Regions from separate parts of the Homo sapiens genome. Here region 2 is linked to region 1. Evidence: fine-mapped expression QTL. A gene starts in region 1. The other region holds a variant in brackets. All regions are shown on one strand. Distances are between the middles of the regions. Region 1 holds the start of ITGA3 (integrin subunit alpha 3). Region 2 has its middle 21 kb from the start of PICART1.

What was found. PIP is the estimated chance that this variant, and not a neighbour inherited with it, causes the effect.
Region 2: its variant is fine-mapped to the expression of ITGA3 in adrenal gland (GTEx, PIP 0.98).

Annotation. Positions count from the first base shown.
Region 1 is chr17:50,052,946-50,060,948 of GRCh38, reverse strand. It overlaps ITGA3 (integrin subunit alpha 3), which reads right to left and starts at 4,839. Exons shown (of 26, transcript NM_002204.4): 1 at 4,304-4,839. The coding sequence starts at 4,509. It overlaps PICART1 (p53 inducible cancer associated RNA transcript 1), which reads left to right and starts at 5,210. Exons shown (of 3, transcript NR_038230.1): 1 at 5,210-5,320; 2 at 7,322-7,456. RefSeq lists a silencer at 4,766-4,905 and an enhancer at 5,885-6,411.
Region 2 is chr17:50,030,270-50,039,498 of GRCh38, reverse strand. No RefSeq gene overlaps it. Among named protein-coding and RNA genes, the nearest start is that of PICART1, 21 kb to the left of the region's middle. RefSeq lists an enhancer at 4,142-4,938. The variant C/T (reference allele first, on the strand shown) is at 3,931.

The sequences.
Region 1 (8,003 bases):
GGAGAATCCTGAAGGTGAGAGGGACCTTACTGTATGCAAATGAAATGCAAATTAGTACACAAATGAGCAATTCTGCCAGCCACCTGCTTTTAGGTCTGGTCCAGATCACAAAATCCAAAAGCTGACCCCTTCCAGAGCAGTACTGAACCCATCCCCTCAGCTGCAGCCAGAAGGAGGGAGAGTAGGTGGAGGGATGCCTAGATGGAGCTCTTAGAGCAAGGAAGATAGGAGATGGGACTGCCCCTCTCCTGGAGTCAGGCTGGACTGGGGGGAGCAGAGACCCCCAGCCCCCCAGATGGAGTGGGATGGGTGAAGTGACTACTCAAGGGCTTTCCAACAGCTGCCTCCTCACCCTCCCATTGGCTCCAGCCAAACAGCCCCTCTTGGCCTCTGCGGAGCCCCTTGAGCTCCAAGTTCCGAAAAAGCCCTTCCTTACCCCTGCCCTATCACTCCCCTTGGGGCAGTTCAGAGCTAATGGAACAGCCAAGGAGAAAGCAGAAGAATCAAAGAAGGGCGCGGCACAGTACCCAGGAGAATTCAGGGTACCAGGTTGGCTCACCTCAAAGAGGAGAAGGCCCCTGGGGGCACTGGGGTGGGGTAATGCTCAGAGAAGCAGCCTGTAAGATTCACCTTCCCAGATTCTGTCACCTCAGGGAGGCACTTGGTGGCTCCATGGGAGGATTCCAGAGGGGGCCAAAGGATCTAGCACTCAGGCCAACATGGCAGGGCCTCACTCCTTGGGTACCTAGCCTCCTGTGTTCCCCTCCTATCCCCGGCCGGGAGGCAGGTGGGGAGGGTGCCTGCTCCACCTCTGAGCCCCAGAGAAGGGGTGGGGGCAGCTCTGGGATGCCTGGATCCCAGCTCTATGCCAGCCTTGCTGCCCGAATTAGCCATCTCCCCAGAGGCCGGCCCTGTGGCAGCTGAAACTGCAGCCCTCCCCATCCTTCCTGACCCTTCCCTTGCTGCCCACCCAGCCCCCTCTCCCCACTGGTGACTCAGCCCTAGAACCAGAGCAACAAGCTGGAGGGAGAGAGAGAATGAGAAAGGACAGGAAAAAGAGCCCTGGCTAAGCCTCAGATAAAAAAAGAACAAGGCCATTTTTCTCAGTTCTGCTCCCTTTCCTTGGCTCTTCAGTATTTTTCCTGTATTTGACCCCCGAGGGCATTCTAAGTGTCATCTAACCTCAATTCCTCTTACTGCAAAGGGGATCTTCTTCCTTCTTTGTTTACTTCTGACCAAGCCCCCTTCGCTGCTGCTTTTTCTACAAGATCAGGCTTCCCCTACTCCTGCCCAGTTGAAAGCCTCTTGGCCTAGACTGGTCACTGGGTAGAGCCAGAGGAAAAAGATACTACACGAGCAGGCCTTCTGCCTCCAGCCACAGCTGCTGTGCCCATTTCTGCTGGCACGAACCTTGAAGGCTGCCAGGCACCTGCTTTGCCCAGGGAAACATGATGTTAGGAGAGCATGGCAGGTGAGCCTGGCTCCTGCGTACCTCAGGCATGACCTCATTTCTAGGAGCCACCCTGCCCTGGGCTTCCCAGATACCCTCATTTCCAAGCAAAAGTGAAAGAGAGAGAAGGACCGGCAGTATCCCCATAGGCCCACAGGGTCAGGCCAGACCAGAATGCCTGGATTCCCAGGAGGGAATGTCAGTGCAGGTGCTGGAGCAGAGAGGGTGTCAGTAACCACCTCCCAGAGAACAGTCCCTGTCCCTCCAAGGAACCCCTCATGCATCTTGCCAAGAAGCCCAGAGCACTTTGGTCCTCTGCCTGCTCCTTACCCCTCATTTCCACAGACTAGGAGACTGGGCCCTGGGTTGGGGCTAGCCCCCTATGTTGTGGACCAGGAACCCCAGTCCAGAGATGAAGGTGATGGGGCAGCAAAGAGGGTCCCACCCCTGGGTTTCTAACCATTTCTGAGGCCTTATGAATGGAGAACAAGAAAGCTGTGCTCTCCCCTCCTCCCACCCCCAGGGCAGTGGACAAATACTACGATTTTGGGTACACTTTCAGGGAGTCCCTGCATCTCTTGAAAACCTTCTACGAACCCCAGTTTAAGAGCCTGTCCAAGACCACGAACCATCCCACTTTTCCAAAGAGACTTTCAGGCTAACAGAATATGAGGCTGCAGCTCGTCTTACTAGTTAGTTCCTCTGAGTTGTGCACTCAGGCAGCTGTTTGCATCTGGCTACACAGCTGGCTGCAGCTAAGCCCAGCTGGCTCTCCCAAATGGCCGAGGGGTCGAATTTAGTGAGATGAAGAGAAGGGCCAAGACACAGAACCACCCTTAGGAAAGACTGAGGATACTCAAGGGAGAGAACTGCCCCTCAGAGGTTCATTAGCTTTAGAACCTTCTGGGCTCTTGGCAGGCTGAATGCCAGCTCCAGCTTCCCAGACAGAAAAGTAGAACCCCTTTGCTCAGCCACCCTGGGCGGGGCCCATGGGTAATGAGGATGCATCCAGGTTCTGGCCTCAGCGCAAGAGCCTTCAGGTGCTCCTTGGAGAAAGGCACATGTGCAGAGGATTTTACGCACTTTATCTCGTTACAGCCCCACTAACATCCCAGCAGAAGGCATGCTGTTCCCCTCCCTCCAACATGTGCGGAAATTCAGGTTCAGGTATTGGTAACAGATCTGAGACAGGACACTGGCCATGGGACCTCCAAGCCTCTTCTCCCTCTACCATATCAAGTTGCTTCTCACAGGCCAGCAGCAGTGGGAAAGAGCACTAGATCCAGGTCCAACCCGTTTTGGGGGAAACCTGGCCCAGGGAGGGGAAATATCTTGCTCAAGGTCACCAGGCAAAAGGGTTGCGGAATCATTATTGACTCTTTCTTTCCAGTCTGATCTCTTTACCTATGTTATCTTATATCATGCAGATTTGGCATTGAAAGTCTGAAAATCTTTTTCTCAGTTAGGGCAGAAAGAGCTGATGTAGAAACTTGTGCTCATGGTGGCTCAGGATCTCCAAAAGATAGAGGGTTGGCTAAGGCCAGGTGGCAGCTGCTGGGGCCAGGCTGGGAAGGGTGTGGTAGCCCTAGCCTCTGCAAGAGCAAGATGGAGTTGAGGTTAAGTCCAGGTAGGTAGGCTGGGTCAGGAGGGCAGAACCAAGGCGGGGGCAGAGTTTGGACTTTGGACATTCTAAACTTCCTCAAGCTCTGCAGGCCCCAGCCAGAGCAGGGAGATTTTCCAGTGTACCCTGGATGTGACCACGTCTTCTTGTTCAGTGGGGTCAGAGGCCAGGTGGGGGCAGAGGCTAGGTGGGGGCAGATGCCTGGCAGATCGCCCAGCCCAAAGTGGTGGATGGTACCTGCTTAACCTGTCCTAAACACCGTCCCTCTTTGGACAGCTTCACCTCCCCCAACCGCCAACCTCCGCGCGCTCTGAGGCCACGGCAGAGAGACCTCTGAAGCCTGGACATGCTCCTGGGCATGAGGGCGTCTGGTGGAGTGAGGGGGACCCAGGAGGCTGGGTGCAACCTCCTCCTCCTTCCTCCACTGTGCATAGCTCTTCCCCTCCTCCTTGCAGCTGTTGGGGAAGGAGAACAGAAGAAAGAGAAAAACACTGTTTCCCTCTTCAAACCAAAACAAACACACTCAGGGTTGAAGATCCAACACGAATCTGTGGAATGCAGGGAAGATGTCTGCGGGGAGAGTGCCACTGCTTGCGGGTGGGCAGGAGGAGACCCAGCCAGAGTTGGGACAAGTCCTCCTCTCTCTTTCACCGCCCCTATCCTCAAGGCGTCAGAGGGAGCGTATGGACAGCTCCAAACGCCCAGACTCACCCATCGCCTCACCCTCCATCCGCCAAGCCAGCGGTTGAGAAGGCCATCCAGTCTGGCTCTGCAGAGGGTGTGGCTGGCGTGGCCGCAGACTACCAGCGAGGTGCTTAAATGTATATGCTCATTTTTCCCCCAAGCGTACGGGAAGGGGGGAGTCCGCTGGGTGTTTATCTTGCAGTTTACCCCAGCTCCCAGCCCTGGAGAGAACAGGCTAGTGCTGGGTACTCGGTTCACAGAATGGGAGAGGACTCAGCCACCGGGACCCCACTTCCGCTCTCATGAGAGATCTAAAGGGCGGAGGGGTGGCGTCCAGACAGGTTCTGGCCCCGTCAGCACTTGCCAATGATTACTGCCCGACCCCACACCCAATCCTCCACTTCCCGCCAACCCCCAGCAGCCAGAGGGCCGCCCCTTAATCCTGGCTCCCAAGGGCCAGCTGCCCTGGGCTCCGACTCAGCTCCGGACCCGCATCCCGCGCTCGCACACTCTCTCGCTCCCACCCCACACCCTCCAGCTTCACTTACAGGTAGCGCTGCTGCCGCTCTGTCTGCCGATGGAGGGCGACCGAGTAGCCGAAGAGGCTGCCCGGGTTCCCGGCCTCCTTCACTACCAGGAATCGGGTATCCAGGTTGAAGGCGGAGACGACGCAGCCGCCGGCCGCCACCATCAAGGCGAGCGCACAGAGCATCAGGCGTGGGGCGCGGGGCGCGCGGCTGGGGCCGGGGCCCATGGCTGCCAGCGGAAGCGGGGTCCCGGCGAGAGCGCGTGAGGGCGCGGAGCTGGGCGTGAGGACCTGTTCACCTGCTCCCCGCGCCGCCGGAGGACACTGGAACCCGCCGGCCGCTGCGCTCCGTAGCGCTGATCGGTTTCGTGCCCCCAGCCCCAGCCAGTTTCACAGCTGCGCTCTCGGATCCCTTCCTAAGATCCGTGGGTCTATCTTCCTGCCTCCCCAGCGGCCGGGTCGCCGCCGTCCCTGCCCCGGGCAACCGGCCCCCAGCTTGTCCCGGCCGCGCCCCCTTGGCCGCGCTGTCGCCTTCGATCCCGGCTTCGCGGCGGATCTGGCAAGCGCACCGGTCGACCGCAAGGAGGACAGGAGGGAGGGGTCCCCCGGCGCGCGCCCCGCCTCCCCACGCCCAGTCCCGCACCTCCCCACCTTGCGAGCCCAGCCCGGGCTGCGCTTTCCTTCCGGGGAAAGAGAAAAAGATCCCGGCTCGGCCGCCTCCTCTTAAAGGGGCAGCACCGCCCCTCCCTCCTCATCCTCCCTACCCCAGCTCCGCCTTCTCCCCCAAACACCTGTCGGCAACCCCCAAAGGCTTAGATTTCCCCTCCCCGCCCCTCGCTTCTCCGAGAAAGCGTCGCCTGGGGAGCAAGATGGATGTGACGGGCGGGGCCGGGGGTGGGATTTGTCTGGCCGCTTTCCTGCGGCTGCTGCTGCTGCTGCTGAAAAGGCCAGCCGGGCTGGAGAGACCTGGCATTGGCGCATCTGGGAACCGACGTCCGTGCGCGGCTGGCTAGAATGCTGGACTCGCCTCCGCAGCGCTGTGAGTCCCCAAGAGGTGGCTGGCGGTCTCTGGGAGTTCTTCCTCGCACTCAGGCCCCTCGCTGTCTTTGCCGAGATTTATTTCTCCTATCCACTCACCCTGATCCGAGCTGAGATTGGCTCCTCAGCAAAGACAGACATATTTAGCAGTGGTAACAACCAAATGTCGCTAATTATAATTACCAAAAAGCATTTTTCCCCCTAAGTGCTGCGACTTCTGGTATCAAAGGCTAAGACTGTCAATGTAGAAATGAGTCCGTCCTTCACAGAACGCACTGCGTAGCCGGGAAGCTGAGCCTAGACCGTATCCATTTCTCGTCCACTCCTGCCTTCAGGGCCCAGCCCAGCAGAATCCCAGAGGCTCCCTCTTCCCACCCAAGCTCGAACAGAGTGTTTGGAGACTGGGCTCGGACGTCAGCACCCATCAGGTGTTTGGTGGGTAGGGCCAGGTGGCAGTAAGTGGGCGGAGACTAAAGGTCTCCTCCACCAAGGAATCAAATCGAAAGGGAACTTCAAGAGGTTACTCTGGCCAGGCGCAGTGGTTCACGCCTGTAATCCCAGCACTTTGGGAACCCGGGGAGGGCGGATCACGAAGTCAGGAGTTCGAGACCAGCCTGGCCAATGTGGGGAAACCCTGTCTCTACTAAAAAAATACAAAAATTAGCCGGTCGTGGTGGCGGGCGCCTGTAGTTCCAGCTATTTGGGAGGCTGGGGCAGGAGAATCGCTTGAACCCGGGAGGCGCAGGTTGCAGTGAGCCGAGATCGCGCCACTGCACTCCAGCCTGGGTGACAGAGTGAGACGTCGTCTCAAAAAAAAAAAAGAGGTTACTATGTACTTTCTTGGATCTAACTCACATTTCTCTTATTGCAGCTCAGAGACCCATTTTCCCCGGAACATTGTTTTTTTGTTTTGTTTTGTTTTGTTTTTGAGACGACGGAGTCTCGCTCTGTCTCCCAGGCTGGAGTGCAGTGGCGCGATCTCCGCTCACTGCAACCTCTGCCTCCGGGGTTCAAGCGATTCTCCTGCCTCAGCCTCCTGAGTAGCTGGGATTACAGGCGCCCACCACCATGCCCGGCTAATTTTTGTATTTTTAGTAGAGACGGGGTTTCGCCGTGTTGGTCAGGCTGGTCTCGAACTCCTGACCTCGTGATCCACCCCGCCGCCTCCCAAAGTGCTGGGATTACAGGCGTGAGCCACCCTGCCTGGCCTCCCCGAGCATTCTTTTCTCCATCTATTCTTAAAATAATAAGAACAAAACACCATGTATTAAGCACATACGCAGCAGGAACTATGCTAAATGCTTCACAAATGTTAAATCCTCACAACAATCTTTGAAGTGTTATCTCTGTTTTAAAACGAGAAAAATGAGGCTCAGGGAGGTTAGGCAATTTGGCAGAGGTCACACAACTAGGATTTTCATCCTGTGTTATCTGACCCTGGAGCCCTTAACTACTTATGCTAATAATGAACATTTATACACTACTTTGGGCGTGTCCAAGTTTGGTGGGTCCTGAAGCTTGTGCAATCTGGGGTGCTCTTTAAGAATAAAATTATTTTGTACTCATAAGAATTATGAGTACAAAATTAGATTCAGAGCCTGGGAAAGGGTCCTGGCCTAGCTTTACAGTTTACAAATCATTTCACAAGCAGGCTCATTTTATCCTCCTGGCCTCCCTGTGAGGTGGGGATTATGATATTCATTTGACTTAGGAGAAAACAGAGCCTCAGGAGGTTACCTGCCTGTCCAAGATCTGAATTTTATGGGAGGCAGAGCTAGGACTGAAGCCGCTGACCACAACCGTGTCTTTAAGAAGACAAACTCCAGGCAGATGGTTGTCAGACAGCTAGACATGCCTAAACAAAAGCAGCTGTGATAACAGCTTTCTCTGTGGTGTTTGGGGAGAAGACACTTGTCTCTAACGGCCCTTAGAACAGGATTTGTTCCTGACCTCTGACTTCCAGAGCCACCCAGCCTCTCTCATGGTCTGCTTTGTGGCCCAGGGCCTGCAGGGATTAGAAGACATGTGGGGTCAAGGAACAGGAAGCTGACCTGGATGGAAGTTGAACAGTGATCTTTGCTCTCTGCCTGGCTCCTGAGTCCTCTGCCATGTTCCTGGAGAAGAGGAGCCAGCCAGGGTAAGAAGGGCAGGGGCTTAGGGTGGAAACGCCATGTGGGTGAGGATCCTGCCTGAAACAGCTTTGAGAGTCCTGCGATGACAGATTGGCCCCATGCCAGGCCTTATCTCTTTGGACATCCCAAACAGGAATGACCAGCATGTCCGATCCTGGGACTGGGAGCCGGAAAGGGATGAGGGATGGTTTTTCCACTCCAGGGGAGTGTCCAGAGGGAATGTGGAGCAGAGCAGGGGCGACTGGTAGGGGGAGGGCCTGAGCTAAAGAATGTGGGGGAGTGTCAGACCAGTCTGGGGAGATGGAGTGGGAGTGGAGGGAGACATGGAGACTAGAAGGATCTCAGCTGGAGAGATGGAGAAAGAGAAATCTCAGGGTTCTTTGGTTTCAGTGGCACCGTCGTCTGTAGGATCATCTCATCCCTCAGTTGACTTTATCATGTCAACTCTTTATCTGTCAACCCTCCCCCATGGGGAAGAGACCCACCTAGAAACACACAGACAGACAGAGAAACAAGGACACAGGAATAATATGTGTAATGAGGAGTCTAAGT
Region 2 (9,229 bases), 22 kb after region 1:
GAGGCAGAGGTGGTAGGGATCCAAACACAGTGTTCAGAGGGGACTACCCTGCCACTTCTTTCCTCAGCTCTAGGAACGGGAGCTTCTCCTCTCCCTGGACTCCCTGACCTGAGTCCTAGGAATTCCCAGATTCTCCCTGATCCATCCTGGAGCCCCTGACTGCTTCACTGCTTCCAGAGAGGATGCTGGGGGCCCTCGTCCACCCCAGCTGTGTTTATGTCCCTCTTCCTGGAAGTGGGATAGGCACCAGCCTGGCCAGGCTGGTGGGTGTGGGAGGAAGGCACCGGATCTGGGGGCCTATGATAATCCTGGCAGTGGGGGCAAGAGTGGGTGAAGCAGGTTGGCCTGATCAGGGCCAGTCAGGCTGGAGCAGAGTGTCTTGTCCCGTCCCAAGGTGCCTTCTTCCAGAACAGCTCTGTTTCTCCCAGGCCATGAGAAACACACCTGGAGCTTGGAGCTGAGGGAACTTGGAGAAGGAAAACTGGCCTTTAAGTCTTAAAAGTCTTAGTCATACTGGTTACCATTTGTTGAGTACTTACTACATATTCTACCTTATGCTAAGTGCTTTGCATGCATATCTCATCTGATGCTCAAAAAAATCCTCATTTCCCCATTTGACAGATGAGGAAACTGAGCCTTAGAGGATTTCAATACCTTGCTCAATATTATCCAAGGAAGTGGGTCAAAGGAGTCTCATGAAACTAGATTTGAAATCAAGTTCTGGACAAGGGAGTAAGATTGGAGAAGCACATACAACTGCCTTCTTCCAGCTTTCCTGCTCCAGAGCCCAACCCAGCGCAGCCCTGCATCCACAGCCTCTCTCAGGGCCCTAGGAGTGGGGACAGGGAGCACCTTGAGATGACCTCAAAATTCCCAGCTGCCTGGTATGGTAAGTGTTCAGAGACTTCTTTCAAACGACATCCTTGTCTCAATCTAAGGCCACAGGAGAGGGGGAAATGTCAGGAAAGGTAGAGAGGCCATGCCTGCTCCAGGCTTCTGCTAAGGCAGGGAAGGGGACCCCAAGAAGTTTAGGGATATCCACCAGGGTTGGGCCCTTGGACAGGGTGACAGCAGGCAGAAGCTCTCCAGGAGGGGATGCAGCAGAGCAGGGTGAGGAGCACCATTAACTACCTAAAGGGCAGACCCATTCATTGCCATCCCAGAACCATGGAAGGGGTTCCTGGAAGGGCAGAAGCTAGATTTCAGAAAGAACATCCATTAACAAAGGATTCTGTGCCTGAGAGAGAAGGCTTGGGATCTCCAGGCTGGAGGAGATGCTGGCTGGCCTGGAGGCCGGGGGGATGGCTGAGATGGTGCAGCCACATTACAAGTATGGTTCTCCTGTCTGTGGCCAAACCCAGTCAAGGACCCAGCAGTCTGGACCCCTATATCCTTAATGTTGTCTCAGCTCGGAGGCAGAGGGATGGACACTGTGGCCTCCTCCCATAAGCCTTCTGGGTTGCAGGAGAGAGTTGGCTGGGGAGAAGGAGCATCATTAATTCCCCCAAATATTTACAGTGTTCCTAGTGCTGGGCCTGCAGCCAAGGCCCTTGGGTCAGGCCCTGTGCTGTGTCCATTACTCATGTCTCACTCAGGCGAGCAGGCCTTGGACACAGGGAGGGGTGGCCAGAGGAGGCAGGAGCCTGGGAGGCGGTGCAGGAGAACAGTAGCCCGCTGCCTGCCCCGATCCCTCCCCCAGCCCACCCGCCTGGCAGGAATCTGGCTGCACCCCAGATGCTTATGGCCTGCTCTCCAACGAGAGGTAGAGAAGCAAAGGGCGGGGAGCAGTCTCTCTTGCCTTGCTCTTCCAGGCTGCTGAGATGGGGGTGGGAGCAGTCTCTCTTGTCTCCCTGGCTCAGATTATCCAGCCACCAAGAATGGGGTCTCCCCCAGGGCCAGGCTGGGTCAGACAAGCTGCTGCCTGCCTTACATCCTGGGCGGGAAGCGGTCCCTAGAGGCAGAGCCGACAGGAAAAAATACTCAAGGAGCTTGACAGGAGTGGGGACACTGCCCTGGGCCCGCCAGCCACCTCCCAGGGCACACAGCCACATCCCATACCCAAACTACTGGAGGGTTTGGGGAGGCTGCAGCGGCCCCTGGACAATCAGCCCTGTGCTGCCCCTCCCAAGCTGGGCAGCCGGGCCCCACTCCCAGGACCCTGCCCAAGTCCCTCTTGGAGTCTTCTCCCCTGCTCCACCGACTCTGCCTCCATGACCCACCTCCTTCTCCTATTCCTGTCTCCCTCTGTCTCTCTGTCCCCCTCTTTCTTCATCTCTCATGTCTGCACAGACAGGGTGGGACAGGAATCCAGGTGCCACTCACTGAAAAGAGGTTTGGTGGGAGGAAGAGAACCAGGCCAGGTGAAGCAGTGGCTGACGTCCTTGGAGTGTCAAGAGCCCAGGCCCTCAGCCTTCCCTGCCCTTTGCAGGCCCCCACCCCTGCCCTGGGAGGTTTGGGGTGGAAACGTAGGAACAAACAGCCTCCCTCTCCCCCTCGACGTGGTTTAAGCAGATAAACCTGGACTTCAACCAAGCCTCTCCTGAGTCGGTAAACACCTGCTCCCTTGCCCCATAAGGCACCTGAGGACAATGAGGGACACTGTCTCATCTGCCCCCTGGGGAGTCCTCATTCTGCCTCCAGGCCAGCCCGGGAGGGGCCGTCAGCCTGAGAGACTCTAGGCCCCTTGGGACAAAGGGCTCTTGTAAAGGACGGGACCCCTACTCACTCACCACCTCTCCTCCCCTGAACAGGGCTTTCCAGGCTGGGACTGGATCACAGGGGAGAGTGGGAGCTGAGAGGCAGAGAGGGGTCCCAAATTCTTGCCCATCCAGGATGGGGCAACCGGCTGGTCCTTCCACACCTTTTGCAAGTCCTGAGCCAGGGCAGGGAGGGCAGGTCCACCCTGGCATCAGGGCTTTGGAGGGCAGTGCGGCCATCATGGGAGAGCTAAACACCCCTGCCCAGCCCCAAGCTCTCCTTTTCCTCTCCCAGCTTCTGGAAGATCCTCTGTCTGTCCCTGGCTCCTACTCTCTGCCACCGTCTTTCCCTCCCTCAGGAAGTCTTCTAGGAGGCAGCAGGCTGCGGGGAGCTGATACTGCGGGCCAGGGAGATGAGCAGGGAGAAAAGTTTACCCACACGATCTCATTTGCCTCTCACCATTTGGAGACTGCAGAGATTCTGAAGCCTTGGATTGGGCTGACCTCACCTGTCATGGAGCTTTCCCAAGGAGAGCTTGGGGCTGGGCAGAGGTGCATGGAGCTCTTCTCTGGTTGGCCTAAGTGCTGGTGAGCAGCTACCCTGCTCAAAGTCCATGTGAGGCTCCCTGAGGAGGACAGCCTGCAGAGCCCATCCACCCTGCTACTCAGATACCAGTCAGTGCTCGGGGGAGACAGGCAGGGCAGGGCCCCACTCAGGCTGGGAGACAGGACTCAGTATGGTCTGTGTGCTGGGGGGTTGGGGATGGAGATGAGGAAGGAGACAGCCTCTTTGATAAGGACATCTGGGAAGGCTGGCTGGAGGAGGTGGCATCTGGAGATAAGCCTTGATGAGGAGGGTTCCATCAAAGCAGTCTCCCATTTCTCTTAGGGGCTATGTTCACCACTGCTCCTCCCCCAGCCTGGAGCCTCCTTCACCACCAGGAGCAAAGCAGCTCCTAGCACTCCTGCCAGCTCCCCCAGAGTGCTGGCCTCTTCTCCCCCCAGCCCATGACCTCCCAGCTGTGCAGCTTTGGGTATGTGGTGGAGCCTCTCCAGGCCTCAGCTGTGCACTACAGTCACTAAAGTGCCACCTCCTGCAGTTTTCCTGCTGGTGGACTGCGGTCATGCTGGCGACAGCTCAGTCAGAGGTGAGGCCCAGCCCGATCAAAGCCTTCAGAATCTTTGCCGCCTCCAAATGGTGAGAGGCAGATGATATTATGGGTAAACCTCCTTC[C/T]CCCCCCTCACCTCCCTGGCCTTCAGTATCAGCTGCTCCTTGATGTGTTGCAATCAGCAGGCCACTAGTTCCTGGCTGCTCAGGGCCAGATGATTCTATCCTTGGGGACTGGGACCTGCGTGGAATCCCTTGCCTCTTTTGGGGGTCAGAATCCTTCCATCCAAGGACAAGTCTGGGTGGGGAATGGGTGGGGTGGGGAGAGCTCTCCTTCAAGCCTCCAGATGTCAGTAAGGAAAATCACCATGGCTTTTTCTAGCCACTTCGGCCTTTGGCCTCCAACATTCTCCATGAGTTTGTGTTCATGTCTGGCCAGCGGGGCTGACCTTCTGCAGCCCTGAGCTAGTGTGGGCAGGGGCTTGGAGAAAGTTCGCTGGGCTGGGTTGGCCCTAAACCACATCTAATTTCCCCTGCTGCTTTTGTGGGAAAACCAAGGCTCCGTCACCTGGGTACCTGAGTCCTCCAAACCTGCAGGCTCTCCTTCCACCCTCACATTTAGAAGACACACCCAGGCCAGGCGCAGTGGGAATCCCAGCATTTTGGGAGGCCAAGGCGGGCGGATCACTTGAGGTCTGGAGTTTGAAGTCAGGAGTTTGAGATCAGCCTGGCCAACATGGCAAAACCTCGTCTCTACTAACAATACAAAAATTAGCCAGGCATGGTGGCGGGTGGCTGTAGTCCCAGCTACTCGGGAGGCTGAGGCAGAAGAATCACTTGAACAAGGGAGGTGGAGGTTGCAGTGAGCTGAGATTGCGCCACTGCACTCCAACCTTGGTGACGGAGTGAGAGTCTGGCTCAAAGAAAACAACACATACTCGAGTGGCGTTGAGTGTTGCCCTCACCCCGGCCTCCCTGACCTGTCCTTGCTGCATTCCCACTGCCCTCTGCCTCTCACCTGTGGGCTGTTTGCTCCGAACTGTGTCAGCCCAGGTGTGGAATGCAGCCCCCCTTCCCTTTAATTCCTCCCTAAATACTCTTCACCCAAGGCAGTGAGGGTGGGGGATCATTCCTGAGGGATGGGGGTGATGGAGAAGAAGGGGCTACTTTTCCACCCAGCTCCCAAGCCCATGTTTCCACCTCCCTCTGGTTGCCTACCACTTATTGTCTTGGTTTTCAATCTCTCTTCGTCTCTATCTCTATCTGTCTGTCTCTCTCTCTCCACATCTGTCCTCAGGAATTCTCTCCTGAGTGGTCTCCTGAAACCGAGAGTTCTCCCAAGCTATTAGTTAGATAGATCCTTTCTCTCTCTCTCTCTCTCTCTCTCTCTCTCTCTCTCTCTCTCTCTCTCTCTGTTTCACATCCCAAGAGAGCCCAGCAAGGTATTTCCTAGTTCTGCTGCCAGCTTTTGCAATAACGTGTGTGTGTGCGTGTGTGTGCGCATGTGTGTGTGTTTTCTATTCCACACAGTTGGGGAAAGTAAACCCCAGAAAGAGATCGCTTGCCCAGAACCTTACAGAGTGAGGAACGAAGAAGGAATAAGAACCTAAGACTTTTAACTTCCTGCGTAAGAACTGCGTGACTCTGGGCAAGTTAATGAGTCTCTCTGGGCCACCATTTTATTTTATTTTAATGGAAATATTTAATTGAAGTGTAACGCATAGACAGAAAAGTGGATGGATTTTCACCAAATGGACACACCTGTGTAACCAGAACCCAGGTTGGGAAATATATTTCCAGCATCCCCCAAGCCCTTTTATATCTCCTCCCAATTTCTTCCTTCTTAGAAGGTAGCAATCATCTTGACTTCTACCACCATAGGTTCGTTTTGCTGGTTTTTTAACTTTTCATCAGCAGAATCGTAGAATATGTGTTCTTTTGTGTCTGGCAGTTTTTGCTCAACATTAAGCCTATGACATTCGCCCATCTTGTTTCTTGTACTTACAGTTTGTTTCTTTGCATTGCTGGACACCCTCGTATGAATACGCCACCATTTATTTATTCATTCTACTGCTGATGGACATCTGGATTTTTTCAGTTTAGGACTGTTGACAATAGTGCTGTGGTGAACATTCTTTTGCATGTTTTTTGGGGCACAATGAATACTTTTCTGTTGGATACAGGCCCAGATATGGACTTGCTAGTCATAGGGGCTGCGTATGCTTAGCTTTAGTTGGTGCTGTCATAAAGTTTTCCAAAGCGGTTGTGCCAACCCACGCTCCTGCCAGCTGGTACAAGAGCCCCATTTGCTGCACACCCCTGCCAATCTTCAGAAGTCAGTCTTTTTCATTTTAGCTCATTGTAGCTTTTGCATTTCCCTAGTGACTTATGATATCGAGCGTCTTTCCATATGACTACAGGGCATTTGGAAAGCCTTATTGTGGCGGGGTTGTTCACGTTGCCTGCCCATTTCTACTGAGTTATCTGTCTCTTTCCTGTTGATCTATTAGTGTTCTTTATATGCTCTGGATACAAGCCTTTTGTGGTGCAAATTTCTCCTGCAACTCTGCAGCTTTCCTTTTCACTTTCTTTTTATTTATTTATTTATTTATTTATTTATTGAGACAGTTTCGCTTTTGTTGCGCAGGCTGAAGTGCAATGGCGCGATCTCGGCTAACTGCAACCTCTGCCTCCCAGGTTCAAGGAGGTCCTGCCTCAGTCTCCCAACTAGCTGGGATTACAGGCATGCACCACCACGCCCAGCTAATTTTGTATTTTTAGTAGAGATGGGGTTTCACCATGTTGGTCAGGCTGGTCTCGAACTCCTGACCTCAGGTGATCCACCTGCCTTGCTCCCAAAGTGCTGGGATTACAGGCGTGAGCCACCATGCCCGGCCCCTTTTCACTTTCTTAATGGTGACTTTTGATCAACAGAAGTTCTAATTTTATTTTATTTTGATTATAAAGATAGGGTCTTGCTCTCTCACCCAGGCTGGAGTGCTGCGGCACAATCATAGCTCACTGCAGCCTTGAACTCGTGGCCTCGGGTAATCCTTCTGACTCAATCTCCCAAGTAGCTGGGACTATAGGCACACACCACAGTGCCCGGCTTAGAAGTTCTAAATTTCATGGAGAATAATTTATCAAGTTTTTTTTCTTTATGGCTAGAACTTTTTGTGTCCTGTTTAGGAAATTTAGCTACCCAGAAGGCTGAGGCAGGAGGATCGCTTGAGCCCAGGAGTTCGAGACCAGCCTGAGCAATGTGGTGAAATCCAGTCTCTACAAAAAAAAAATACAAAAATTAGCCTGGCATGGTGGCATCTGCCTATAGTCCCAGCTACTCAGGAGGCTGAGGTAGAGGTGGAAAGATTGCTTGAGCCTGGGAGGTTGATGCTGCAGCGAGCTAGGATTGCACTAATGCACTCCAGCCTGGGTGACAGAGCAAGACCCTATCTCAACAAACAAACAAACAAACAAACAACAACAAAATTTTGCCTACCCAAGGTCATGAATATATTCTGTTTTTTTCTAGTGGTTTTACCTTTTATATTTAGATATATATTCCATGTAGAATTTTATGTTTGTGTATGATGTGACATAGGGATCAAGATACCTTTTTTCCACATGAATATCCAATTGCCCAGCACCATTTATTGGAAAGACTATCCTTTCCCCAGTATAGCTGAGCAGTATCATCTTTGTTAGAAATCAAATAATCACATCTGGGTGGATTCACTTCAAGGCTCTCTATTCTGTCCCACAGGCTCTCTATTCTGTCCTTGCACTAATACCATGTTGTCTTAATATCTAGTACTGGAAGTCTTACAGCTGTGCTCTACTTGAAGAAAGTCTTGGCTATTCTTGATCCTTTCCATTTCCATACAAATTTTAGAATCAACTTATCGATTTCTGCACACACACACACACACACACACATTCCTGCCAGGATTTTGATTGGAATTGCATTGAATCTATAGATTGATTTGGGGAGGATTTACAAGGTGGAGCTTTCCAATCCATGAACACTAATTTAGATTATCTTTAAATTTTTTTATTTTTTGAGGCAAGATCTTACTCTGTCACCCAGGCTGGACTGTAGTGGCACAGTCATGGCTCACTGCAGTGTCGACCTCCTGCGCTGAAGTGATTCTCCCACCTCAGCCTCTTACAGGCACACGCCACCACACCAGACTAATTTTTCTATTTTTTGTGGAGATGGGGTTTCACTATGTTGCACAGGCTGGTCACAAACTCCTGGGCTCAAGTGATCTGCCCGCCTCCACCTCCCAAAGGGTTAGGATTATAGGCATGAGCCACCATGCCTGGCCTAGATATTTTTAAGTATTTATCAAAGATGTTTTGAAGTTTTCTGTGTAGTGAGGGAGCTTTCACTGTTTGGGTTAGATTTATTTTTAGGTATTTGATATTTTTATGATGTATAAATGATGTTGTCCTTTTAATTCCTTTCCCTAATTGTACATTGGTAGAAAAACATTTGATTCGTTCCTTTTTTTTTTTTTTTTTCACTTTTAGAGACAGGGTCTCACTATGTTGCCCAGGCTGGACTCAAACTCTTAGGCTCAAGGAATCCTCCTGCCTCAGCCTCTCTACTAGCTGGGACCACAGACATGGGTTACCACATCCGGCTTAGTAATTCTAATTTCAATGGAGAAAAATTTATCAAGTTTTTTCCTTTATGGTTAGTACTTTCTGTGTCCTATTTAGGAAATCTTGTTATTCAGGAGGCTGAGGCAGGAGGATTGCTTGAGCCCAGGAGTCCAAGGCCAGACTAGGCAACATAGTGAGACCGCATCTCTATTTAAAGGAAAAAAAAAAAAAGAAATCTTTGCCTACCCCAGCAACATTTGATTTTTTATACTGATTTTGTATCCAGTGAGCTTACTCAATTTACTTATTTATTCTAACAGCTTGTCTGTATATTTTGGGGGATTTTGTCTATGGGCCACTATGTCATCTAAATACTGGCAGTTTTCTTTCTCCCTTTACAATTCTCACAATGTTTCTTGTGCCTTATTCCCTTGCCTGAGGCCTCCCTTGTAGGGTAGTGCTGGATGGAGTGGTAACAGTGGGCTCCTCAGCTGCCTCCTGATCGTAGTAGAAAGCTTTGAATATTTCACCACTCAACCTAATGGAGTGTGTGTGTGTGTATTTCAGATAATCTTCATAGTACTACTTTTTCAGACATACCTTGCTGATAAGGGAAGGGTCTGAGGGGCTGGGATAGGGAGCAGTGGTTTGAGGTTGGGGAACCCCTGGGAGTGGCCTGCCCCTTGCTCAATTAAAAAGCAAAACAGTGCCGGGCGTGGTGGCTCACGCCTGTAATCCCAGCACTTTGTGAGGCTGAGAACGGCAAATCACTTGAGGCCAAGAGTTAGAGACCAGCCTGGCCAACATGGCGAATCCC